Homo sapiens: one gene and its partners. The protein of the gene in region 2 purifies or fractionates together with the protein of the main gene of each other region. This does not show direct contact. Each region holds a gene or a part of one and is shown on either strand. Other genes may lie near its edges. The genes, in order: CDK5RAP2, C1orf87, PPP2R2D, PPM1B, UBR2, AKAP9 and FKBP15.

Region 1 (3,500 bases), on a different chromosome or scaffold from region 2:
CTCAAGTCCATTTTGGAAATAGGTGGGCTACAGATATATAACAAGACAAAGGAAATATACTGAAATATTAAAAATCATCATTAGTAGGGAAATGAGAGGTTTTCTTCCTTTTTAATGTTATATAATTCTCAATTTCCTCCAATAAACATCACTAAAAGGACAAAGTCAATTTTCTAAACTGAATTTTAAAAACTAAAATCAAGTTCAACCATCACCTTTTGCAGATGGTGGTCCAGAAGCCCAAGGTCACATACACCAGGTTATTGGCCAAGCTCAGCCTAAGGTCTGGTCCTGCATTCTCAATCTGGGGTTCTCTCCGGGTACCAGAGCCATTACATTAACTCCCACTGGCTAAAACTGCCCATGAATAACTCAAGCCAAGATCAATCACAGCTGAAAAGTACCTAGCAAACAAAGCCAAAGATTCTGGTCTTAGACAAGCTTCCTACAGGCAAACACTGAAGTTTGAAAAATGACATCTGACATCCCAACTCTTAGACAAAACCACTATGTAATGCAGAAATTTTTGCTTGGATCCTGCCAAATTTCCACTCGGGCTTTACCTACCCACTTTTAAAATGCTATGAATCTGTCATCTGCACCCTCCAGTCAGTTCCAACTACACCTCCAGCCACAAGCAGCTCCCTCTTTCCATTCTAATCATTCACTTGTAGCCTTATAATTAAGGCTGGGGCCTCAGGGATACTCACGAGAAATGACAATGTAAGCAAAACAAAAGGGCTCAGATATGATCTTATTCCACAGATGAGAAGACTGAAACCCAGAAATGGGTTAGGAACTTATTTACTCAAAATCACAAAAGTTAGTGGCAAAGCCAAGCCCAAAATCCAGGATCCCAGTGTCTTTTCCACTTGCTAGCCTGTGTGTGGACTGCCCAAAGCTCCTATATAAATGTGACACATGGTGGAGTACCAGTTTCCTCACGTGCAAAATAAAGCACAATCTAAGAAACCTGCCCTTGTATGGGGCACCCATGCTGCACAAGCACCACACTCAGCACAGGACAGGCAGCCTTCCCTTTCATCCTCACCACAGGATTAAAGTCCATTTTCTAAACTGAATGTTTGAAACTAAAATCAGGTTTAATCCTCACTATAGTCTTTCTGCGGCTGGTGGTACTTTTTAATGTTGCCTTTTTTTTTTTTTTTTTTAATGAGGAAACAAAGACCAAAAAGTTAATAGGCTGGAAACTCCAAGCCAGCCTGACTTTAAACCCCCTGCTGTGAACCTACACCACCCTGGTACCCCTGACGCCTTCCCGGAGGTTGGGGGTGGCAGGGGTGTGGTGGTGGTTAAGGGCCGAATGGACTGAGGCATAAAATTTCCATCACTCAGCACAGGGCACAGCCATCATAACGACTGTTTTGTTTTGTTTTGGTTTTTTGGAGACTCTCACTCTATCGCCCAGGCTGGAGTGCAGTGGCGTGATCTCAGCTCATTGCAACCTCCACCTTCCATATTCAAGCGATTCTCGTGCCTCAGCCTCCCAAGTAGCTAGGATTACAGGCATGCACCACCACGCCCGGCTAATTTTTTGTACTTTTAGTAGAGATGGAGATTCACCACGTTGGCCAGGCTGGTCTTGAACTCCTGAGCTCAGGTGACCTGACCGCCTCAGCCTCCCAAAGTGCTAGGATTACAGGCGTGAGCCACCGCGCCCAGCTGTAGCAACTGTTTGTGGATAATTTTTGAGTGACTGAATGGACCTTCACCTGAGCTCCACCACCTCATCCTCCTATCTTGCTCTATTGCTACCGAAAAGGACTGACCTCTTTCTATGCCTACATATGCCAGCAACAATTGTCCACTCAAACCATAAGACCCAAGGGGTCTTATGTCTCCTTGACAAATTGTTTCATGAGAGTCATGGATGAGACCAGATATCACATTCTGACAACGATTACACAAACAAACTCACTTTTGTCTTTTAACAACCCCTTTTTCATTCTATTTTATTCTTAATTAGAGAAAAATACATAAATTTAAAAAAATACAGATAAGCCTAAAGTTCTCCTTGGCTCCTCCTCGCTCCCATCTAGAACCCGCCTAGGAGGTAATCACTGTTTTCAAAAAGACCTATAACTTCCAGAACTTTTTATGTGTTTTTACATAGATAGTTTCAATTTTGCTGCTTAAAAACACATGCAATCAAACAGTATACATCATGCTACAACATCCTTCTTCTACTTAATATGCCCTCATGATGTTTTCATGACAGTACAAATAGATATGCCTCAAAGTTTTCAACTCCTACAAAGCTTTCTACAGCAGTGTTCTTCAAACCTTACTGACCATGAGCCACAGAAGAAATATTATTACCCTTCATCCTTGAAATGTTTTCTATTCTGTTCTATTTTTCTAAATCCTGGTTGCAACCTACTAAATTGAATTTCATGAGCTACCAACGGGCCACAGTCTGAAAGATACTTTTGAAAGGATGTGTATTTACCCAATCCCCTACTGATGATAATTCAATTTGTTTCCAAGTTTTTCTTTTACATGCAATGTCATATGAATGTCCTTATAAGGTCCCATATGCACAAGTATGAGGATTTCTCTAGAATAGATGACAAGAAGTGGAATTGCTGGGTCAAAATATATTCACGTTTTTTAAATGGACGATGGATTTGAATACACATTTCTCCAAAGAAAGTGAACAAATGGCTAAAAGGCACATGGAAAGATGCTCAACACATCAGTAGCCATTAACATGTAATCAATACCACAATGAGGGCCAGGCGGGGTGGCTCACTCCTGTAACCCAGCACTTTGGGAGGCCAAGGCGGGCAGATCACCTGAGGTCAAGAGTTCGACACCAGCCTGGCCAACATGGTGAAACCCCGTCTCTACTAAAAATATAAAAATTAGCCGAGCATGGTGGCACGTGCCTGTAGTCCCAGCTACTTGGGAGGCTGAGGCACCAGAACCGCTTGAACCCACGAGGCAGAGGTTGCGGTGAGCCGAAATTGCGCCACTGCACTCCAGCCTGGGCAAGGGAGTGAGACTCTGTCTCAACGACAAAAAAAAAAAGACCACAATGAGATACCTACCATGTCACACCCAAAGGATGGCTATAATCAAAAGGACAATAAAAATATCAGTGAAGGGCAGGCACAGTGGCTTGTGTCTGTAATCCCAGCTCTTAGCAAGGCAGAAGCAGGAGGATCACTTGAGCCCAGGAATTTAAGACCAGCATGGGTAACAGAGCAAGACTGTCTCTAAAAAAAATTAAAAACAAAAGCCTTAAAAAGGAAAGAAATTCTGACACATACTACAACACGCATGAACCTTGAGGACATAATGCTAAGTTAAATAAACCAGTCACAGAAGGACAAATAGTGTATGATTCTACTTATACGCGACACTTAGAGTAGTCAAAATCATAGAGACAGGCTGGGCGCAATGGCACATACCTATAATCCCAGCACTCTGGGAGGCCGAGGCAGGCACAACACTTGAGGCCAGGAGTTCAAGACCAG
Region 2 (4,004 bases):
AATAATATAGTTTTCCAGGTAGGAGATCTGAGCCAGGTGTCCAAACTAATTCTATTTACTTTTCTTGACAGTGACAGGGATTTGACATATCTCAAAATAATCGCTTACCATATCACAGTGTCTTAGTTTCCTCATCTACAAAACAGACATAAACTGTGTCCTAGGCATAGAATATAAAAGGGACATCAAACATTTCAGAGAAAGAGGTTCGATTTTTTGTTACATTTTTTATATCTATAGAAAGACTTCTATAATAATAGCAGGATTATTTACTAAGCATGTTATTTATAATAGACACTGGAAAGGTGCTTTGCATACTTTTTCTCATTTAATCCTCACAATAACCCTATTACTAGATAGGTGTTGTTTTATCCCCACTTCATATATGTAGAATCTAAGGCCAAAGATGTTAATTCATTTTCCCAATGTCAAAAAGGCAAGAAAGAATCAGACCTAAGATTCAATTTCACACCTCTCAGCACTGTAGGGATCCCAAATGTATGAATCACGTGCTGCAAACCTCAGTTCCTGTGCAGTGGCAGACATTACTAACTGATTATAGCAGTCACTTTGGAATCCCTCTAGACCTTACAATACTGATAGTAGGGAAGTAGAACTAATGTGCCTTTCTAAAGCCTTATTAAAGCCTGTACTTCATAACAGCAGTCTTGGTGACCTACATTCAGAGATTTTGATTCAGCAGACCTTGAGCTGGTTCCTGAATCTGTATTTTTGAGGTCTCTCCCAGTGATTCTGATGACAGCTAGGTTTAGCAAAAATTTCTTCTTGCACCTATGTTCAACAATACCATATCTTTGTATATTTGTTCAGTCTATGAGTTTCTGAAATAGAAGATAGAGCTAAGGAAATAATCTTAGGAAGGAAAAGTAATTTTTGACTAGCTATTACTTATGGAACGCCTACTATATGAAAGACAGATCTAGTACCTTCCCTCCTTTTTTGAGCCACTGAAACTCTGTAAGAAAGAGCTAGTCATACTGTTCTGTGCTGAAACATCTGGTGAATATTAGAAATACAGGAGTGTCATCTCTTAAATGTGACTCTGATGGGTTTGGAATAGAAGAAAGAGATCTTAGCCATGATCTGAGAAGCCCAAGCTTAGAGGAGTATCAAATACAAACAGGAGTAAGTGAAAACCTTACAATTTATGATTCTGTATTAATCCTACTCCTGTAATTCACAACAAATTGACTATTAAACCTCCCCCACTCTCCCCAAAATTAGTACATGTGGTAGATTACAAGCCCGATGAGAAAAGGCAGCAGTGCTCCATTAATATTTATAAATGTCGCAATGCTCATATTTCCCATCTATTTGGAAAATCAGCCCAAGTAATTAAGGAGTATGGGGAATTATAAAGATGAAAAATATCAGGAAAACAGTGCACATGGAAGTTATCAACACGATTTTACCTCTACTGTTGCATCTTAATGACTTCGTTTTCCATGGATGGCATTTTTTAAGTTTAAATTTCTGGGTGAAAACAAAACAATAAAACTTCATTATCATCCAAGCAACATAGATATTTTTCAAATATGGACTTACATCTTTGGCTTCTCCACGAGGTATTGAAAGTGTTTACTTCCAATGATTTTCACCATGATCTCAGGCATTGCATCTGATCCACGGGGAGTCTTCCAGGCTGAAGACATGATTCCTTTCAAAATCCCTTCAGATCCCTAGGGGTGAAAATAAGTAAATTGTTCCTCTTGATTTTCCATTAGGGAACTGCATCATCCTTGCCAATAACAACAAGCAATAATAATAGCAGGACAAAGTGTTTCACCTATATTACCTCACTTAACACTCCTAACAAAGGCATGAGAAAGATATTTTTAACTACTATTATCATTTTTGTTTTACTGTTGAGGAAACAAGCAAAATGTAGCTATATGACTTACTCACATCACATCACATCACCAGTAATTAGCCGACTTGGGAATCTCACCTAAGAGGTCTGTACAGCAGATCTACTGAATCATTAGGTGACTCTACCTTCCTGTACTACAAGACATAGGATGGAATTCCAGTGAGGTCAGAGCAGAAACAAGGGCATTAGTGGGACATATGAAGAATCCATATTCAGTTCTGATGTTTAGTTTCCCCATTTATGAGATCAGGGTAATTCTAGGTCTGTTCTCAGGGACTTGAGGGTGAATCCAAGGAGATAATGCATCTGAAGGGAGACTGTACACAAGACAGACAGACTTTTGTTGTTATCACTGATCTCTTTCTACAACAATACAATGAATCTGAAATTGAACTCCTGCACAAGGTGTTTAAACAGAGTGATGCCAAGGGAAAATCAGAAGTTCAGTAAATCTGGCCACAGCTGAACACTCCCTTTTAGAACCACCCAGAGGCTGAAAGGCCTTTAGAAATCATTCTACTCCAAAGGCTCCTTCACAGATTGGAAAACTAAGGCCCAGAGAGGGTGTGTTATTTGACAAGGGTCACAGAGGAATGAAGGACGGGACTGTTTCCAGTACTTGGGTCTGATGTCTAGGCCAGGGTTCTTCCCAAAAGTCCAATACTAAAGACCTGTGCTAGGGCAGCCCCTCATCCCGGGGACCTGCAGCCTCTTTGCACCTGTCTGGAATCTTCCAGACCCGGAACTCGTGATCCTCAAATCCCCTCCCTGCCCAGCAGCTGCGTGTCGGCCCTGATTGCCCGGAGAGAACAGAGTCGGGGGGCTTACCGCTAGGGCAGCGTCCCCACCCTGGCAGCTCAGAGGTGCGCGGTCCGTGCTTCTCCCCAGGAAGCTGACACTCTCAGACCCGGGGACGGGACGGGGCGTGGGGACCGAGCCCAGGAATCCGGCCAATCACAGGGCCCGCATCGCGGGCGGCGCCTGTTCCGCCCTGGTCGCTAAGGACGCTGAAGGCTGTTTCTGGGCGGGGACCAGGTTTTTCTCCACTGCCTAGGCAATGGACCCAGGCTCTGGCTGCCAACGGGTGAAGAGCCTAGGTGTTTTTGATCTGTGCCTTCTCTGTTCCTCAGAGATATGCGGGCGTCCTTCTAGAAGCCCATCTCGCTCACCTGTGTGGTCACCCTTGTCCCGCCCTTCCTCCGAAGGCTTCATTTCCCTTTGTGAGTTTGCACATAGTTGAGATTCCAACACAGTAGGTTCAAATCCAGACGTCTCCACTGTATGGCTTGAGTAAATCCCTTCTTTTCCCTGAGATTGTTTCCTCATCTGTGAAACGGGGCAAAATAATAACACTGTCCTAACTGCGATTTGGTGACTAAATTAAATAAGAATATCGGCCGGGCTCAGTGGTTCACCCCTGTAATCCCAGCACTTTGTTAGGCCGAGGTGGGCAGATCACGAGGTCAGGAGATTGAGACCATCCTGGCTAACATGGTGAAACCCCGTCTCTACTAAAAATACAAAAAATTAGCCGGTCGTGGTGGTGCGCGCCTGTAATCCCAGCTACTCAGGAGGCTGAGGCAGGAGAATTGCTTGAACTTGGGAGGTGGACCTTGCAGTGAGCCAGGATGGTACTACTGCACTCCAGCCTGGGCAACAGAGCGAGACTCCATATCAAACAAACAAAGAAACAAAAAAACCAGAATATTATAGATTGATAATAATAACGTTGAGTACTGTCTCTATGCCAGATCCCTATGACAAGCTGGATAACTCTCACCTCACAAGTTAATAGTTATAAACAAAATAGTTTTACTTTATTTTAAAGAGAAAAGAAACAAGTTGGGGTATTGATAAACTACTCCAAATCCTGCAAAAGCAAGTACAGAGCTAAGATTAGAATATAGATCTGCATATCCTACATTTCCAGACAGTTGTTATTATGCTAAAAGAAACTTCAGCTGATGCAGGCAAAGACACTTTAGATTGATTCCCAAACGGTATTGTTATTTGCATCAACATAGGCAGCAGCAGCTCCAGCATCTGTTCCCCTGTCTCCTAACCTCTAGCTGTACTGTGCTTTACAGGTGAATATATCACCCACTGGCACATG
Region 3 (3,500 bases), on a different chromosome or scaffold from region 2:
GCTCACACCCGAAGGGGTGGCGGCGGATGCTGTGGGTGAGTGGGGCCGCCTGAGCCTGCTCGGGCCACATCCACACATCCACAGAGTCCACCTGGACTCGGAGGAAGGCCGAGAGGACACGGACGGTGGCCACACCACGCTGCAGTGAAGGCCCAAGTGTGATGGCAGAGAAAGAGGGAAAGTTGGAGAAAGAGCGGTATCTGACAATAACTTTTCTCTTGGATGTTAATTTTTTGGTCTATAAATTGGAAAGGAAGGCTCGGACTGAAATAAATACATTTATTCTGAGTAATGACCTTTTGGGAGCAGTGTCCGTCAACTCTGCTTCGAGAGCGTCTCCACGTGAGCAGCAGCGCCTGTCTCGCGCCTCGCCGAGGCGGAACCACACCGGGCCTCCAGCGGAGGCGGCTTTCTCCTGTGTCTGTGAAGGGAAGTAGCAGGTGCGTCACTGTTCTTAATGGAGCGGACAATGATGCCTTTTCTCTGACAGAAAAATGTCCGGCTTAACTATGCAAGACAAGACTTGGTCCTCACGTTCGCGTCTCTAGTTGATTTTGTCCTGGAATATGTACAAGTTATTGGTGGCAGCCACGGCAATGACATTGTCCACGGGGTGCCAGGCTGTGTGCAGGATCTTCTTGTTGAAGTCCAGACTGTCCACACTGATCTCGTCTTTCCTCCGCTTACCCCCCGTACACACCTTCCGGGGTTTGAGGCTGGCGCGCGGTTTGCTGCTCTCTCTCGAGGCCTCCAGGGTCACATCCCTCCGCGTGTCTCTATCAAACATCCTGAAGAAGTTGTTATAGGACCCGGTCATGATGGCGCTGTTCAAAACAAGAGCAGACAGCAGCACTCCTCAGTGGGGGGAGCGGCAGCAAGGACTCAGACCCCACCCCTGGGGTGCACAGCGCACGCCACCCTCCCCCACAACCCAGTTACTTTCAGAAATCAGGAATGATCAATCACAATGGGCAGAAGAGAAATGCAGTGAAAATGTGTACCGAGCTTTATCTATAATCATGTCAGTAAGAATCCATGTCACAGGAGAAACAAAATAATGGAGTCACACTTTTAACATTAGTGTATTTTTTGAAACAACCCCACCTATTTATCTCACTCATGAATAACAGCACAGTTTATTTTTAAGCCTTATGTTCTGCAATTTGTCAATGATCCATAATGACCTGAACATAATCCTTATCATGTTCAACAGTTACTAGTCATATCTGTCAATGTTTCTTTGGAGTTAAACTGCTTTTCTATTAATTTCAAAAAGTTTCTTTCAAATGAGGCAACGGATAGAAATAGTAAAAATCCACTGGGCAAAGTGTGGCAGAATTTTAGAACAACTGCATTTCACACACATTCCAGACAATACAATACCGTCCATGCTTTTGTTTCTTCAAGATCAACTGTAATGGCTTTCAAATGTCTCTGCTGTCGAAAAATTCTACTACCGCACACATCCTCATGATATAACTTCATAATACTGGTAAAAACCTCTGCAATCTTACATTTTCTACAAAAATGACAGAAAAATAGCTGAATGATGCAAACGCTGCCATGATTTGACCCATGGCTTCATGAGTCCAGTTTCTGATGAAAGATGTGTTCAAACAATGCCCTTCTGGTTTCTCCAGCCGTCCTTGAAGCTCGCCTCCTCTTCCTATTTTGACACTAACCCGCGCCCTCACGTCCTGCCCCCATGGTCATGCGCGGTGAGAGGCCTTTCACGCTGGCGCGTCTTCAAGGTGCCATGAGAAAGAAGCGGGCCGCTTCCCTTCCATGGCCCAGCACTGACCCTGGCTGCTGGCAAATACCTAGTGTCTGACTGACCTTGTCTAAAACTTCAAAGCAGGGGAAAAAAAAAAAAAAAAGACGAACTCAGAGAAGAGAAACTGCATTCAGCGATCCATGTTTATTTCCCATCTCCTGCTTCCATCCAGGAGCCCACAGCGCCACAGAGGCGGGAGACACAAGGTGTGCCCAGCGCCCTCCAGCAATGCCAAGCTGTGCACGTGGTCTTGGAACAGGGGTATGCAGCCAAGTTGGCACGTGAGGGCCATTGACTGGGGGTTCCCCAAATTAGTTTCCACATAAAACACAATGTTTACGAAAGGGTAAGTAATAAGAATGTGTGAATCTGAAGCTTACATTTATGTTATTAAAACTCAACAGTAACCATTATTCAGAACACAGACGACAGATGATGTATGGCCGACACTGACTGGAATTGCTGGTGCATGGTAATAACGAAAAGCACATCAGCTTTCATACAGATTTATGATCACTTTTAAATTCTCGACAGATAGTGCCAGCCCCAGAGTGGGTGTTTCCACACTGCAAACAAGGGCGCTGCCCAGCAGCCTGGTGCTGGCCCAGGAAGGGAACAGCACAGACAGAGACACAGGCGTAAGCACATAACTGGTTCTGTGGGGCGACCTAGAACACAAGAAGGCGCTGCCACACGGAGAATCAGGATTGGGCTGAGGCAGCACTGAAACGCCTCACTCCCCTTCATCGCATCCCTCAACAGAAGTTTCCAGGTAGGAAGACTGGCGTGTTTTTGAGAGTGAATGGACTAAGCAAATGTTACTGGGAACGCTTTTAGATGTTCTTGGGGATATGTAATCTAAGGGTATTTTGCAATATTTGAAATATATCAAGAGGAATAAAAAATACAGTGACTATCCATGTACCCGCAAGTCACTGCTAAGACAGTGAACCCCCCGCACACTCGCAAGTCACTAAGACAGTGAACCCCCGCACACCAGCAAGTCACTAAGACAGTGACCCCCCCACACACCCGCAAGTCACTGCTAAGACAGTGAACCCCCCGCACACTTGGAAGTCACTAAGACAGTGAACCCCTGCACACCCGCAAGTCACTAAGACAATGAACCCCCGCATACCCGCAAGTCACTGCTAAGACAGTGACCCCCACACACACAACCACAAGTCACTGCTAAGACAGTGAAACCCCCTGCACACCTGCAAGTCACTAAGTGAACCCCCCGCACACCCACAAGTCACTAAGACAGTGAACCCCCGCACACCTGCAAGTCACTGCTAAGACAGGGACCCCCCGCAAGTCACTGCTAAGACAGTGAACCCCCCACACACCTGCAAGTCACTGCTAAGTGAACCCCCCGCACAACTGGAAGTCACTAAGACAGTGAACCCCCGCACACCTGCAAGTCACTAAGACAGTGAACCCCCGCATACCTGCAAGTCACTGCTAAGACAGGGACCCCCCCGCAAGTCACTGCTAAGACAGTGAACCCCCCCACACACAACCGCAAGTCACTGCTAAGACAGTGAAACCCCCCGCACACCCGCAAGTCACTAAGACAGTGAACCCCCGCAAACCTGCAAGTCACTGCTAAGACAGGGAACCCCCGCAAGTCACTGCTAAGACAGTGAACCTCCCACACACACCCGCAAGTCACTGCTAAGACAGTGAAACCCCCTGCACACCCGCAAGTCACTAAGACAGTGAA
Region 4 (3,500 bases), on a different chromosome or scaffold from region 2:
TTCAAAGACAAATACATAATTTTAGACCCACTTACTATTTGATCACTGACAACCATCAATACTTCTTTACTTAACTCATCCAGAAGTAAAAAGATACAGTGTGTTAAAAATAAAAATCAGAGGAGCTAGAGGTACCATCATTAAAATCCTTTCAGAAAAAGGCTGTCCACTGACAAGAACGGCCTTTAAATCTTCTGTTTTTAAAACTGCCTCTTTCCATTCTATTAAAAAGAAATCGGTATTTAACCAAAATCTGGGCATTTCCAGAGACCCAGAGATCCTTTCTGAAAAACTTTCTGGTTATGCCCATACCTTCCACAGTACATTTTGGAGTAGGGAGATACAGTGGTTCTAATCTAGACAGAATAAATAAGTCAAACCCTTTATTTATTTCATGTAACTAAAGGTCAGTTTTACCTTGGTATCTTTTCAGTCAAATACTTACACACTCCAGACACTGGCCAGATAACTCAAATTTTAATTGAATTATATATAGATGCTGTCAAAAACCCACTTGAAACAACTGAGTATTTTAAAGATATTCAAAGGATTGCCAATTATCTATTACTCTGGACTTTTTTTCTATTACTGTATCAAGCAATGATTCATACAAAATTACAAATCTAAATAAACTTTAGTGTTCCACAGGAATTTTTCACAAGATTATGTTTTATAGAAGCCTTTGGTTTTTAATCAGAAATAATAAAAACATCTATATGAAAAGAATTTTATCTTCTACAAAAGATACTATCCAAGTCATGTATTACTTAGAGAGCCACATGTAAATCCTTTTTAGATTGTATTGCCAGATAAGAGCTGCTTTTAGAAGACAATGAGAAATATACAACCCATATTTTTATTTCAGTTTTTGTCTTCACTGCTAGGAGGCTCAGGACTAAATTTTATACAGGCTAGGCATCTAGTACATCTTCCAATATTTCACATGGCTCTTGATCTTTTAGTAATATCTAGTACAGAATTCTACTATATACATATTTTATCAAGCTGCTTCATAATCAGGCATAAGATGGTTACTGCCAATGTCAAGAAAAAGTCACTCTGTGTAAATGCTTTTGCTACAGCAACAAGCTATGAAGTACTTAAATGACAACAAATGCCTCAAATTTATCAAGCTTAATTTTCAAATTAGAAGGCTGGGACAAACAAGGATGGCAAAGAAAACAATGGTTTCATTTCTGGTAAAGTACTTCAAAATATACAGCTTCTGTGAAAATATTAAAAGTTTTAAAATTTTAAGTTAGCTTAACTTTACCTACCGTAACTTTTCAAAATTAACATGTTATTTTAATGACAAAAAAGTTTACATACCTTGTGTAAACAAGTGTCCACTACCCAATTGCACACATTTTCCAGGTCATCAGATACCTCAAGCCTAGATTTAACATATTCACAGAGCTCCTCATTACTCATAACATCCCAGATCCCATCACAAGCCAAGATGATAAATTCATCCTCTTCTGCTCTTAAAATTTCATAAACCTCAGGCTCTGGAGAAACAAGTTGTTCTGTTGGGCCCTTGCCATCAACACACTTGTAATCATAGTCCCCCAGAGCACGAGATACTGCTAATGAACCATTAACACGTTGTATCATCACGCTGCCTCCTGCATTTTGGATTCGCTCCTTTTCCCTTGGATTGCAAGGTTTGTGATCCTGGGTAGAAAAGCAGACTTGTCCATTCCTATACAGAACAGCACGTGAATCACCACAGTTGATAAAGTAGATATGCTTAGGTGAAATCATAACTCCCACTGCAGTTGAACCACTCCTGTCCATCCCGTTTCTGAGGTCTGAAAAGTTACGCATGTATTCATCAATTTTCAAAAATCCAGTTCTGATACCATTCTTAACATTTTCCACTGAAAGCTCAAGAGCAGATCCTGATTTTCCAGCTGCCCTAAAGTCTTCGTTAGTAGTGATGTGTTCTAATAAATGTGTTGAGCAGTAATTTGCCACTCGGGATCCAGCATGACCATCATAAACTGCAAAAAATGACCAGTCTTCCAAGCCGTGAGGAATACCTACAACAGCTGTGTGTGCATCTTCCATTTCCACTCTCCATCCTTGCATGCTGCTCAGGCCATAACGTAAACCATTCCCAGCACCATGAGCATTATGTTTTTCAGTTTTGGGTTTATCCAAAAATGCACCCATGTTTAGCAATAAATCTGAAATAAAAAATGCAGGTGTTAAATGTTTAAATTTGACAGAAAATGTATGTACAATATTCCCTCTATAGTCTAGTAACTCCTACCTCAAGTATTTTTTTTAGTATTATCCTAATTTACGGGAGCAACAACAAAAGCCCAAGAAATTTCCTCCCCTACATCCTACAGAACAGTGGTTTCTCAGCCCTAGCGCGTAAGAATAATCAGACCAATTAAATCAGAATCCCTAGGGATGGGACACAGATATCATCTTTTAAAAGCCTCTCTGGTGACTTGTATGTGCAGCCACGTTGAGACCACTGTTCTAGGAGAAAGGAAAAAACAAGAAATAAAACTTCATTAATAATTTCATTCTGATTTAATTTACAAGGTGAGTCTAGGGTTCGACATGTAAGTTTACAGAAGACTGGACAATGAGAATATTCAAAACAGTGAGTCATCTTGTTCAATAAATCAAGGTAGGAAGGTATACTAATATACTTTAGAAGACTTTCAAAAGCAAGTATTGAAATCAAGATTTCTCCTCCCAGTGAACCTAAAGACAACCCCAAAATTCAATTAAAACATAAAAATCTCCATTCTACACACATTTGGTTTTATCACTTTTACTATATATCTATAAAACTGAAAACCTTATCATTACTTTGATTCTGTTAAAAACATACCTTTAACATGGTGCTAAAAAATGGACTTCACTTTGCTGAACTTAAAATCCATGAAGTAGCTACCCAGTGTTGACTGACAAAGACTTAAAATCCTTAGAATTGGAAAGTACTACTATGCATCACCCTCTCCCCGCCTACCCAACTTTACTATTTTATAGAATAAAGCTTTCCCAATTTCAAATGACTTAGATTAGACTTAGAGTAATGGTTCCCAAAAGTATGCAAAAGAATTCTCTGGTATGTTTTCTACATACAATGCTAACCCTACACTCTAACTAGGTGACCTTGGGCAAATTTCTTAGTCACCTGTACCTATACCTCATAGGGCTGCTGTGAAGAATGAGTCAATGTAAAGTGCTTAAAACAGCACTTAAAACACAATAAACACCATAAAATGTTTGCTGTTATATCTGCTCAAAATGCAGACTCCATAGCCCTATTCCCACACCTAAGGATTTTTTTCAATAGATCTTAGATGGAATCATCAAAAAAGCATGCTGGTGATTTAAAGTTTTGAGAGACACTGGTCTAGATCAATTTACCTCCATTTGGGTCTACGTATCTTTGTGAGATTTTTTCCAGGTATGATCATTATTGAACTTTACAATAAAATTACATATCGCCATTTAAAAAAATCTGATGAACC
Region 5 (3,500 bases), on a different chromosome or scaffold from region 2:
ATGATTTCATTAATCCAGTGGGTCCTCTATACATAGCTTATTGTTAACAAAAACAGTATCTGAACTCTCTCCAGGACTGTAGGCAGTTGAAAAAACATGGGTTTTGGACCCATAAATATCTAGATATGAATCCTACCTCCTCCTCTTATGAGCTGTTTTACACAAATTAATATCTCTGATCAGGCCTCAGTTTCCCTATTGGTAAACTAAAGACAATATGTTACATGTAAATTGTAGAGATGTAAGTGTGAACGTATGTAAAAGCTGGCAGGTACACAAATGCTAGCTCTGTTGGCCTCCTGCTGTCTGCATGGCAGTATAAGTGGTGGTGGTTTTAGTTGCAGCAATGAGAACAGTAATAGCCGCATTTATTAGGAATATATTGCTCTAAGTGTGTTACATGGATTAACTCACTGAGTTCTGACATAGTCATATAAAGTAGGTACTAACCAACTTAAAGGGGCAGAATCTGAGGTCCAGAGAATAAAGGCACAGCACTCGGGGCTGCTGGGTGTGGCAGTACACTCTGTACCCTGTGCAAGGGAACCCAGTTGAGGTAGGGCTGAAATTTGGCTACCCACTATTTGGACAGCTGTGTGTCTTAGCACTAGGATGTCCTGGCTCAGAGGACATACCTTTCCCTGAATTATAAGGGGCTCTCTGCTGCTAAGTAGTGTGACCACAGGGCTGTATCTGCCAGATTTTCGAAAATGTACAAAAGCACTGTATGGGCCAGCAGCAGTGCTTCTGTTGCTGTTTTTTTTTTTTTGGATGGGGTCTTGCTCTGTCATCCAGGCTGGAGTGCAGTCATGCAATCTTGGTCACTGCAACCTCCGCCTCCTGGGTTCAAGTGATTCTCCTGTCTCACTTTCCTGAGTAGCTGAGATTACAGGCATGTGCCACCACGCCCAGCTAATTTTTTGTATTTTTAGTAGAGATAGGGTTTCACCATGTTGGCAAGGCTGCTCTCAAACTCCTGACCTCAAGTGATCTGGGGTGAGCCTCGCAAAGTGCTGGGATTACAGGCATGAGTCACCACACCTGACCCGTTGCTGGTGTTTTTATCTCTTTACAGGTTAAAAGCACAGAGAGGTTAAAATACTAACCTCAGCCATAAAGCAAAATAAGAGTCAGAGGACGTCTCGATAACCAGGTCAAGTCTCTCAACTAGGTTCCTAAATATTTTCTTTTTGAGGTTTCTCATAAAAGAATTATACTCAGAAGGGGTAAGGAAATCACATAACTCCTTCCTGTCTGCCACTACACTGCTCACCAAACCTAAGGTAAAGTTACATAGTATGACGTAGAAGTCCAAACAAACTGCACAATACCCACCAATAAATGAAACATGTCAATATCTAATATGCATGGAAGTTCCTCATGGCTGTCATTAGGCACCAGTGCTACAGATTTAAAGAGAAATACATTAGCATATTTCATATGCCAACATGTTAAAATGCATATAATCTGCTTTAAATTTATCTTCTTGCAAGACACATGAGAATTTATAAGCTAGAGCTTATATATAAGAAAACCAGTACTACTAAATATTTAATTCATTACTGAGAGAAGCTGTACCATTAAAAACAAAATTTCAGAGGATGAAAAATTACAACATGTTATAAATGTATTAATACTCACATGCAAAAAGTTTACAAAAATGTCCTTGCACCACTGAAACTGATGCCACTGTCCAGTGTGCTGCGGCAAATCTCGTCAATGACCTAAGACAGTCATCCTAAAATAAACCAACGCAATTAACAAAAAACAAAAATGCAAAGCAGTTCTCTTTCAGGAATGCTAGTTCAGAGCACAGCTGGATGCACAATGAAACTGCTCTAGATGGTATGGAACTAGATCTATGACATCTCAATGACATGCCTCTAACACAGGATAAATGGAATGGGAAATGTCTAAGTGTGTGCTGAATAAATGAAATCTATCTCTTTGCCACCATGTTGCTGGTTTTCTCTGGAAAAGAAAAGAATATAGAATATACGCATCTGACAGAAAGCAAGGGACACTCCCAAGATGCCAGTGCAGGCCGGGTGTGGTGGCTCACACCTGTAATCCCAGCTACTCGAGAGGCTGAGGAAGGAGAATCACTTGAACCCTGGAGGCAGAGGTTGCAGTGAGCTGAGATCACACCACTGCACTCCAGCCTGGAAAACAGAGCGAGACTCTATCTCAAAAAACAAATAAACAAGCCAAGATGCGGATGCAGTATTTCTCTATGTTTATCCTAAACAGATACCCTAAAACACATATCTCTTATGTTTATCCTAAAGAGATCCTCTAAAATGTGGATACTCTTCCGTAAAATGTAGAGTATCCTAAAGAGATACTCCAAATATTGGGGAAACTGTCTAAGAAGATGGTGGTACAAATGAGGGTGCCTGCAGCTATTAAAAATTGTTATGAGGACTAAGTAGCAGTAATAAGAAAACTCTTGATTTAAAGAATACAGCAGAAACAAAGCTACATGTGAGTACCAATTGTAATCAAGCATAAATATGCTAATGGAAAAAGATGGGTATGTGATAAGTTGATGACTTTTTTCTTCCTGCTTGTTTTTTCATTTTCCAAATTTTCTGTAATGTTTGGTTCAATAAATATTGAGGTCCTACTATATACACTAGGTCTTGGTTCTGAAGATCTTCAAATAAAACCCATTCTCCCCCTCCTGCTCTCAAAGAGCTTAAAGTCCTGGGGTGGGAAAGGAAGAAAGTGGGGAAGGAGGCAGGCATCACAGATGAGAGGTCTCTAACTCACAGTACATGGTTCAGAGGGCTTTCTAAGGGAAGGGAAAGCTTGAACAGCATCTGAAAGAGTAGCAGTCTGCTTAGGGTACTCTAGGCAGAGGAAATGGAATGTGCAAAGGCATGGGAACTAGCATTGAGGAACTGGCAGTGATTCTACAAGTCTGGACCACAGGGGTGGGAACTGGCAGGAGGTGATAATGGAGAAATAGGTTAAGAAGTTTGTAAAAGTATGAAGAATATGAACAGGATTGCTTTTGAGGAGCCCCTCTAATAACGTATTAGAGAAGAGTGAGATTCTGGGTAAAAACTGCTATGATAATCTAGGCAAGAAATAATATGGGGCTGAACCAAACAAGTAGAAGAAGGAATGGTGAGAATTTGTCAGACTCTGCTGACCAACTGAATGTGAATGCCCAGGCTAAAAAATGTATCTAGGCCGGGAATGGTGGCTCATGCCTGCAATCTCAGCATTTTGGGAGGCCGAGATGGGCAGATCACCTGAGGTCAGGAGTTTGAGACCAGCCTGGCCAACATGGTGAAACCCCATCTCTACTAAAAACGCAAAAATTAGCTGGGCACGGTGGCATGCACCTGTAATCCCAGCTACTCGGGAGGCTGAGACAGGAGAGTCGCTTGAACCCAGGATGCAGAGGCTGCAGTGGGCCGAGATTGTGCCATTGCACTCCAGTCTGAGCAACAGAGTGAGACTCCATCTCAAAAAAAAAAGACTTCAATTTT
Region 6 (3,500 bases), on a different chromosome or scaffold from region 2:
TACATCAGAGGGTTCATTTTCATTCTCTTGTAAGGATATGAACTTATGTTCTATGAAGGTGAAACCTTAGTGTGAAATGTACATTTTTTTCATTGTGCTTTACCATATATGAAGAAGTAAACATACCTGTTCTGATTTAAGTACATTGAGTTCTTTCTGAAGTTTATCATTTTCACTTGGTTGAGTTGCTCTAAGTGATGATTCCTTTGTTACAGATGGTAAGTGATCCAAAATCAACTGTTCTTGCTTACTTTCTTCTCCAACAGTCATATTTTCAAAAGAAACTTTATCTTCCACCATTATTTTTGATTCTTCACCAAAACTTTTATTTACTTTAGAAACTGATCCTTCAGCACCCCTGCTTGTCATGGTCACAACTCCATCTAATAAAGAGCTTACTTGAGTATCACATGACTGTACATTTTCTGCCCTGTTGTGGTTAATAATGATTTCTAGCTCTCTACATCTCAATGAAACTTGTTCTTTCTCTTGCTTTAAAGATTTAACTTCTTCATTTAGAAAACTAATCTCACCATGTTTCTGTTTCAATTGTTCAGAAAGATCAGACAGTCTCTGTGACAGCTCTAATTTCTCTCGCTTGGTTACCTCAAGTTTTTCCATGAGTTCTGTTGTATCCTTTTCAACAACCTCACCCATTTCCAATGTTTCTGCTACAAAAGTTTTGTCTTCATCAAAGACAGAACTTTTCATTTTCACTGTAGTTGGATTTATTCTTTGCAAATGAAGCTCTTCATTAAGTGCTTTAAGTTTACTTTTATACTCTAATTCCTGTTTATTTTTACTGTCTTCTAAATCATCTTTTACTTTGAGAAGGCAAGCATACTCCTCTTGTAACTCTTGATAGTTAACTTCAAAGTTTTTTTCAGCAAATGAAAAAGTGTTCCTTTGCTTTTCAATCTCTTCATTTAGCTGAATACATTGTTGTTTGAGGTCCTCATTTTCCTCTATAAGTATTTCTATTTCTTTTTCCCACACAGAGTCTTTGGATTTGGACTTAATGGAGTCTAAGAAAATCAATCTTTCTTCTTGGCTAACAGGAGTATGTATTTTCAACATGTCTTCAAGGGTTTTCTTTTCATCTTTAAGAATGCTATTCTCTGCTTCAAGTTGTGCAAATTTTTCTTGAAGATCATTCTCTTTTTCCTTCATCTGTTTTTCTAACAATTCTGTTTTAAGTTGTAATTCTTGAACTTCTTGTTCAAGTGTACCCTTTTCTTTTTCTTCTTGTCTGAGTATTTCAATTTCTTTTTGAAGTTCATTGATTTGAAGAGTCATTTCTTCTGACTTTGAATTTACAAGAGACTGCTGTAAATCTTTTAGCTTTGAAATTTCCAAAATTAATTGATTCTGCTTAGTTATCAAATTGTCCTTTTCAAACTGCATGGTTTCTATCTTTTGACTCATTTCATTCTGTAAACCATCTATCTGCTGTTTATAGTGAATGCCTAAATTATCTTTAAGTTTTTCAATATTTATTCGATGTTCAATTTCTAAATCTTCCTTCAGTTTGGAAAGCTCTTCTTCGTGACTAAATAGAAGCTGTGTTCTCAGCCTCTCTAATTCAGCTTCTTGTGATTCAGCCATTCTGTCTAACACAGCATTCTTTTCTTTTTCTAACATTTCAAGTTTTATCTTGTAATTTGTAACTTCTGCTTCATGTTTTAATTCTAGTTCCTTTCTGGATTCAGATGCAGAAACAATCTCAGCTTTCAAATCTTCCACTGTACTAAGGGACTTATGTGCTTCATTAAGTTTACTTTCTTGTTCAGCTATTGTCTGTCTAGCTCTCTGAATCTGTTCCCTTGAAAAGCTCAATTCTTCAACAAGGTCTTCAAGCTGTCTCTGTAGAGCACACTTTTCTTCTAAAATTAGTCCTAGTTCTTCCTTGAGTTTTTCCTTTTGAGAGTTAGTATCTTGCAATTTTATATTCAGTTCATTTATTGCCACATTCATTAACTTTATCTGATCTTCATTAACTGTAATATTTGAATATGACCTTAAAGCATTCTCCATTTCTCCCTTATGCCGTGTTTTCATTTCCTCCATCTGTGCCATGTGTTGTCTTATTAATTCTTGTTTCATTTGCACTATCTGCTGCCCATACATCTCATCCAGCTCTGCCCGGAGTTGTTCTAACTTTCTTTGTGTTTCTTGTTCCATTCGTTGTACTATATCAGTTTCGAACTGGCTGTCTTTATGATTTCTCTTCTGAAGTTCTTCGACTGTCCCCATTAACTGTTTTATTTCTTCAGAAGACTGTCTTTCTTTTTGCTTAGAATTAGTCAGCTCTAATTTCATGTTTTTTATTTCTTGGTTCTTTTGCACAATCTGTTCTTGTAATTCTCCTAGTAATTTATCAGCAGTTGTTAATTTATCCTTTAGCTCAAGAGTTTTCTTTTCTTCTTCTATTATTTTTGTGTTTAATTCTTCAATGATTGTCTCCTTTTCCTGTATTTCTTCTTTATTTGAGTTTTCTACTTTTTTATCTTGTTCCTTTAGGAAAAAAAATGAAAATGTAAGAATGGCATTTTTAGCTTCTGGCAAATTATACTGCTTCATCTCATTACCAAAAGACTGACAGAAGTTTCTCTTTTAAAAAATTCTACAAAAAGTAAATGTTGGTCCTGCCCCTCAATTTTTTCCACAATAATGACACTTAGAACTCGTGTAACCAACACTACTTGTGAGCAAACACTACAGTAGTTTTGGCCTTCTTAGAAGAAATTTCTCTTAACATTTCTGTGATTAAAATTTTTAGTTTAAAAACCCAGTCTGATTTTAGATGTCTCCAAACTGTTACATTTTCATTTTTCTTATTAACTGATCAACATTCTAAATATTTAGTATTCTCTATAGCTAAAGTACTGCATATACTCTAGACACATTCAGAAAGATAAAAATAAATAAAAGTTCCTCACATGTATTCTGGTGACTTCAATGTGTGTCATGGGCAAGGGCTATGGAAAAAGAAAAACAACAAAAACAGACTCCTAACGGTCTGTCTTAACTTCAGTCCTGGGCTCTTAAGTCAGTCAGAAATTTAGAGATATGCAATGCTTAAAAGGCTGAACCTCAAGTGACATCTAAGACAACTATACCATTTATGGCATAACAACTTGGTCCTAGGACTTTTGGTTTAAACAGAATTTTCAAAGCAAAGCAGATACTCTCCCCCAGTTCTTATTTGGGATTCTATTTTGGAATGGAGATAGGGCTACGCCCAGACACAGGCCAAGGCATATCTGTTATGGTGATTACTTCAGCATGACAAAGTCAAGCAGAGGCCCTAGGTCAAAGTTTTGCTTCAGTAACTTACTTGCCTCTGTAAGTAATAGAGGGCTATAGTCTCAAAAACAAATAAATACATGAAATCTACAGAATGGATCAGGACATAAGTAGGTAAGTAAAATCATTTTAAAGAGACAGGAGTCCCAGGCAAACAGGACTTAAAGGTGCCTTGAATGAATGAATGAATGAAT
Region 7 (3,500 bases), on a different chromosome or scaffold from region 2:
AACTTTTTTTACAGTAGTGGTATCACGTTTAATGTTTTTTAGGAAAATGTCATGGACTTGTACTACATAAGAAGGAGATCTTTCTCACTCGTAGTTAACTGCTGCATAGTAGCCTACTATGAGGCTGTACCATAATTTGTTTAATGATTTGCCTATCGATGGATATTTATGTTTTTATTTTTTCATTATTTTAAGCACTGCTTCTATGGACATTCTCATATTATATAACTGTTTTTGCAAATTTGTTTGAGCATTCCTACGTGATGGATTGCATGAGTAAGAATCATGGGATCAAAGGGAAGGCTACATATTTGAATTTTTATAAATATTACCAGGTTATCCTCAAAGAATAGTGCTTACACTTTCAGCAGTATGTGAGTGAGCCCATTTGTCACATTCTTCCCCACTCTACATATATCACTTTTTCTAATCTTCATTAGTCTGACAGGTGAAATATGTTATCTTGTTTTAATGTGTATTTTTATTAGTAGTAAAGCTTTCATATATTTAATACCTATTTGTATTTCTTATGTACATTCTCTCTTTAGTGTCCTTTATCCTTTTTCCTATTATTAGTTTGATTTGTAAACCCTTTTAAGGGTATCAATCCTTTGTCAGTCATAGATGTTGTAAATATTTTTCTAGCTTGCTGTCTTTTAACTTTATTTATAGTATCTTTTGTTGGTTAAAATTTTAATATCAGGAAATACTAAGTGAACAAAGTGAGAACATTTCTATCTTTTTGTCTGTTCTGGAATCGTTTAAATATGAAAATAATAAACTGCTCCTGAGGCTTCAGTAAATCTCATTAGGTAAAGCTGTTTTGGCCCAGTGCCTTTTAAGAGGGTAAATCTTGGTCTGCAATTGCATTTTTTTCCAGGATTTTTTCCATTTTATTTATTTATTTTTAACCAATTCCTTCTAACCTCTTGGCTGTTTTCAGTTTGTCATTACTATAGATACTACTACAGTGACCATCCTTGTAACACACTCTTTATGACTATGACTTATTGAATCCTTAATTACAATTTGTGGAATTTCTGGATACGTATGTTTTTAAAGGCTTTTCACAGGATTACTATCCAAAGAGAGTATATCCATTCGTTTTCTTACTATCAGGGTATGAGAATGTCTGATTTCCTGTACCTTTATTAAAGTTAGGATGTTCCCTAGCTCTTTTTTTTTTTTTTTTTTTTTTTTTTTTTTTTTTTTTCTGAGGCGGAGTCTCGCTCTGTCGCCCAGGATGGAGTGCAGTGGCGGGATCTCGGCTCACTGCAAGCTCCGCCTCCCGGGTTCATGCCATTCTCCTGCCTCAGCCTCCCAAGTAGCTGGGACTACAGGCGCCCGCCACTACGCCCGGCTAATTTTTTGTATTTTTTAGTAGAGACGGGGTTTCACCGTTTTAGCCGGGATGGTCTCGATCTCCTGACCTCGTGATCCGCCCGCCTCGGCCTCCCAATTTCCCTAGCTCTTAATAGAGGGGTAGATACAGCTCTTCTTGTTTTCCTTCTCCTGTCACCATTTTCCTCACCCAGTAGCCAAGAATGTTAAATATTTAGGGGAAAATTCAACTAAAAAATGGAGTTTTCAGAAATGGAGTAAGGATTCCACAAGGTAATTAACTGCCACCGCCATCATCCCTCTTTATTCTCTGTTAACAAGCTAGAGCTGATGATGGTTCTCTTGTTCCTAAGAACCTCTCAGAAAGGAAAAAGAAGTCAGCTCAAGAGCGTTCTCAGGCCGAGGAGGAGATAGATGAAATTCGCAAGTCATACCAGGAGGAATTGGACAAACTTCGACAGCTCTTGAAAAAGACTCGAGTGTCCACAGACCAAGCAGCTGCAGAGCAGGTAATGGGAAACTGAAGCACTTTGAAAATAGAGGGAAGGTGTGAAGGACTCAGAGAGAAAAGCTTCTGGTTTCTTCCTTACCCTTTAGGATGACATTTCTCATAGCTGATACTCTCACTTTGGAGAAAGGTAGAAAAAGTAATCCAGATATGTGCAGGAGAGCCAGGAATCAAATGGAGAATCTTCTTTCTTTTTTTAAAGCTTAGTTAATATTTAATTACATAAGTAAAAATGAAAAATAGTTTCCTTACAAAAAAAATTCCAAACATGGTAAGGCCAAAACCATCAACCATTGGACACCATCCTTCAGGCACATTATCATCCTTGAAAAGAAGGGATTGATTTAGGTCATCAGGAAGGGAACCAGGGATAGTGGCAGGACACAGCTGGATCTCTAGTCTGTGCAACAGCAACCTTTCTCATTATAAGCTTAAAATTTATATGCATACATTTGTTTAATTAGAGTGCATTGGTGCCCTCAATTTGACCACCTCTGGGAATTTTGGTGAAAAAAAGTTTCTGAACCTATAAAGTTTAGGGTTCAGACCCTGAAAAGCAGTGATCACATGGCCCTGCCCTCCAGGGACCTATCTAGATAGGCACACTTTTGTCTGCTTGGAGTACCTTTTGGAGTCCTGACAACCAATGACATCTTAAGAAGTGCATTTATTTTAAAAGTAATGAGTCTTTTAAACAGTTTCCCAGTTAAATCTGGGCTGTTAGCTTATTCTTTTGCTTTTTGAAAGATGGGTTTCCCTAGGTGCAATGGAATCTCACTCCCCCACCCCCAAGGATGATATGGTCATTACTTTCTCTTGGCAGCTGTCTTTAGTACAGGCTGAGCTACAGACCCAGTGGGAAGCAAAATGTGAACATTTGTTGGCCTCCGCCAAGGATGAGCACCTGCAGCAGTACCAGGAGGTGTGCGCACAGAGAGATGCCTACCAGCAGAAGCTGGTACAACTTCAGGAAAAGGTACATATTTTTCTTGAGTCAGACAGTTTAGGCAGCCCAGTTAATTTGAGGCAAGCAGGCTGTTTGAGTCCTGTCGATCCTTCTAAGCCTGAAAGTTATTAATATCTAGAAGACAAAACCACACTTGTTTAGCTTGTCAGTTATCTTTCACATACTTATGTGGGGTGATAGGTCAGTGACCTGGAAAAAGAGAAAACAGCACTAGTGTTCCGGAACATGTTTCCCATTATTATTGGATCCTTCATTTATTAAGCAAATATTTATTGAGAGTCAGTTGTATTCCATCCAGTGTGTTAAAGGAAGTGCATACAAGGAACCCTTCCCTCATGTATCTCACAGTCAAGAAAGGGAGACAAAGAAACAAAGATAGGTGTTAAGTGCTATGGGGCCCAGAAGAGGAAGTACCCAGGAGAGCTGGGAAGGTTTCCCAAAGGTGGTGACATTTGAGCAGAGCCAAGAAGGACAAATAGCTTTGGTAAGGCAGCAAAGGAGGCAGAACATCCTGGGCAAAGGCACTGAGATAGGATGGAGGCTGGGGTGTGGTGGGATCATCAGGCCTGAAAAAGAGAGATGGGACATGGCTTAGGGTCATGGTGTGAAAGTCCATATTCGAGGTCAGTTTCTTTCCTTAAAGTGTCCAGTTGAAAACTTTTGGCTCAGAGATCTTGGAGGCAA

The links.
Region 1: the proteins of C1orf87 (region 2) and CDK5RAP2 purify together in Homo sapiens (affinity purification with mass spectrometry; 2 studies listed by BioGRID and IntAct, with this or other methods). This does not show direct contact.
Region 3: the proteins of C1orf87 (region 2) and PPP2R2D purify together in Homo sapiens (affinity purification with mass spectrometry; 2 studies listed by BioGRID and IntAct, with this or other methods). This does not show direct contact.
Region 4: the proteins of C1orf87 (region 2) and PPM1B purify together in Homo sapiens (affinity purification with mass spectrometry; 2 studies listed by BioGRID and IntAct, with this or other methods). This does not show direct contact.
Region 5: the proteins of C1orf87 (region 2) and UBR2 purify together in Homo sapiens (affinity purification with mass spectrometry; one large-scale study listed by BioGRID and IntAct). This does not show direct contact.
Region 6: the proteins of C1orf87 (region 2) and AKAP9 purify together in Homo sapiens (affinity purification with mass spectrometry; 2 studies listed by BioGRID and IntAct, with this or other methods). This does not show direct contact.
Region 7: the proteins of C1orf87 (region 2) and FKBP15 purify together in Homo sapiens (affinity purification with mass spectrometry; one large-scale study listed by BioGRID and IntAct). This does not show direct contact.

Annotation. Positions count from the first base shown.
Region 1 is NC_000009.12:120,573,668-120,577,167, forward strand, and holds part of CDK5RAP2 (CDK5 regulatory subunit-associated protein 2), read right to left. Parts: intron 1-3,500. UniProt on the Homo sapiens protein: Potential regulator of CDK5 activity via its interaction with CDK5R1. Negative regulator of centriole disengagement (licensing) which maintains centriole engagement and cohesion. Involved in regulation of mitotic spindle orientation.
Region 2 is NC_000001.11:60,070,971-60,074,974, forward strand, and holds the start of C1orf87 (uncharacterized protein C1orf87), read right to left. Parts: upstream 2,801-4,004; 5' UTR 2,720-2,800; intron 1,701-2,719; 5' UTR 1,674-1,700; coding exon 1,567-1,673; intron 1-1,566.
Region 3 is NC_000010.11:131,953,008-131,956,507, reverse strand, and holds part of PPP2R2D (serine/threonine-protein phosphatase 2A 55 kDa regulatory subunit B delta isoform), read right to left. Parts: intron 825-3,500; coding exon 545-824; 3' UTR 1-544. UniProt on the Homo sapiens protein: Substrate-recognition subunit of protein phosphatase 2A (PP2A) that plays a key role in cell cycle by controlling mitosis entry and exit. Involved in chromosome clustering during late mitosis by mediating dephosphorylation of MKI67.
Region 4 is NC_000002.12:44,199,875-44,203,374, reverse strand, and holds part of PPM1B (protein phosphatase 1B), read right to left. Parts: intron 2,190-3,500; 5' UTR 2,176-2,189; coding exon 1,330-2,175; intron 1-1,329.
Region 5 is NC_000006.12:42,672,029-42,675,528, reverse strand, and holds part of UBR2 (E3 ubiquitin-protein ligase UBR2), read right to left. Parts: intron 1,739-3,500; coding exon 1,642-1,738; intron 1,404-1,641; coding exon 1,336-1,403; intron 1-1,335. UniProt on the Homo sapiens protein: E3 ubiquitin-protein ligase which is a component of the N-end rule pathway.
Region 6 is NC_000007.14:91,999,862-92,003,361, reverse strand, and holds part of AKAP9 (A-kinase anchor protein 9), read right to left. Parts: intron 2,515-3,500; coding exon 127-2,514; intron 1-126. UniProt on the Homo sapiens protein: Scaffolding protein that assembles several protein kinases and phosphatases on the centrosome and Golgi apparatus. Required to maintain the integrity of the Golgi apparatus. Required for microtubule nucleation at the cis-side of the Golgi apparatus.
Region 7 is NC_000009.12:113,172,778-113,176,277, reverse strand, and holds part of FKBP15 (FK506-binding protein 15), read left to right. Parts: intron 1-1,694; coding exon 1,695-1,850; intron 1,851-2,672; coding exon 2,673-2,825; intron 2,826-3,500. UniProt on the Homo sapiens protein: May be involved in the cytoskeletal organization of neuronal growth cones. Seems to be inactive as a PPIase. Involved in the transport of early endosomes at the level of transition between microfilament-based and microtubule-based movement.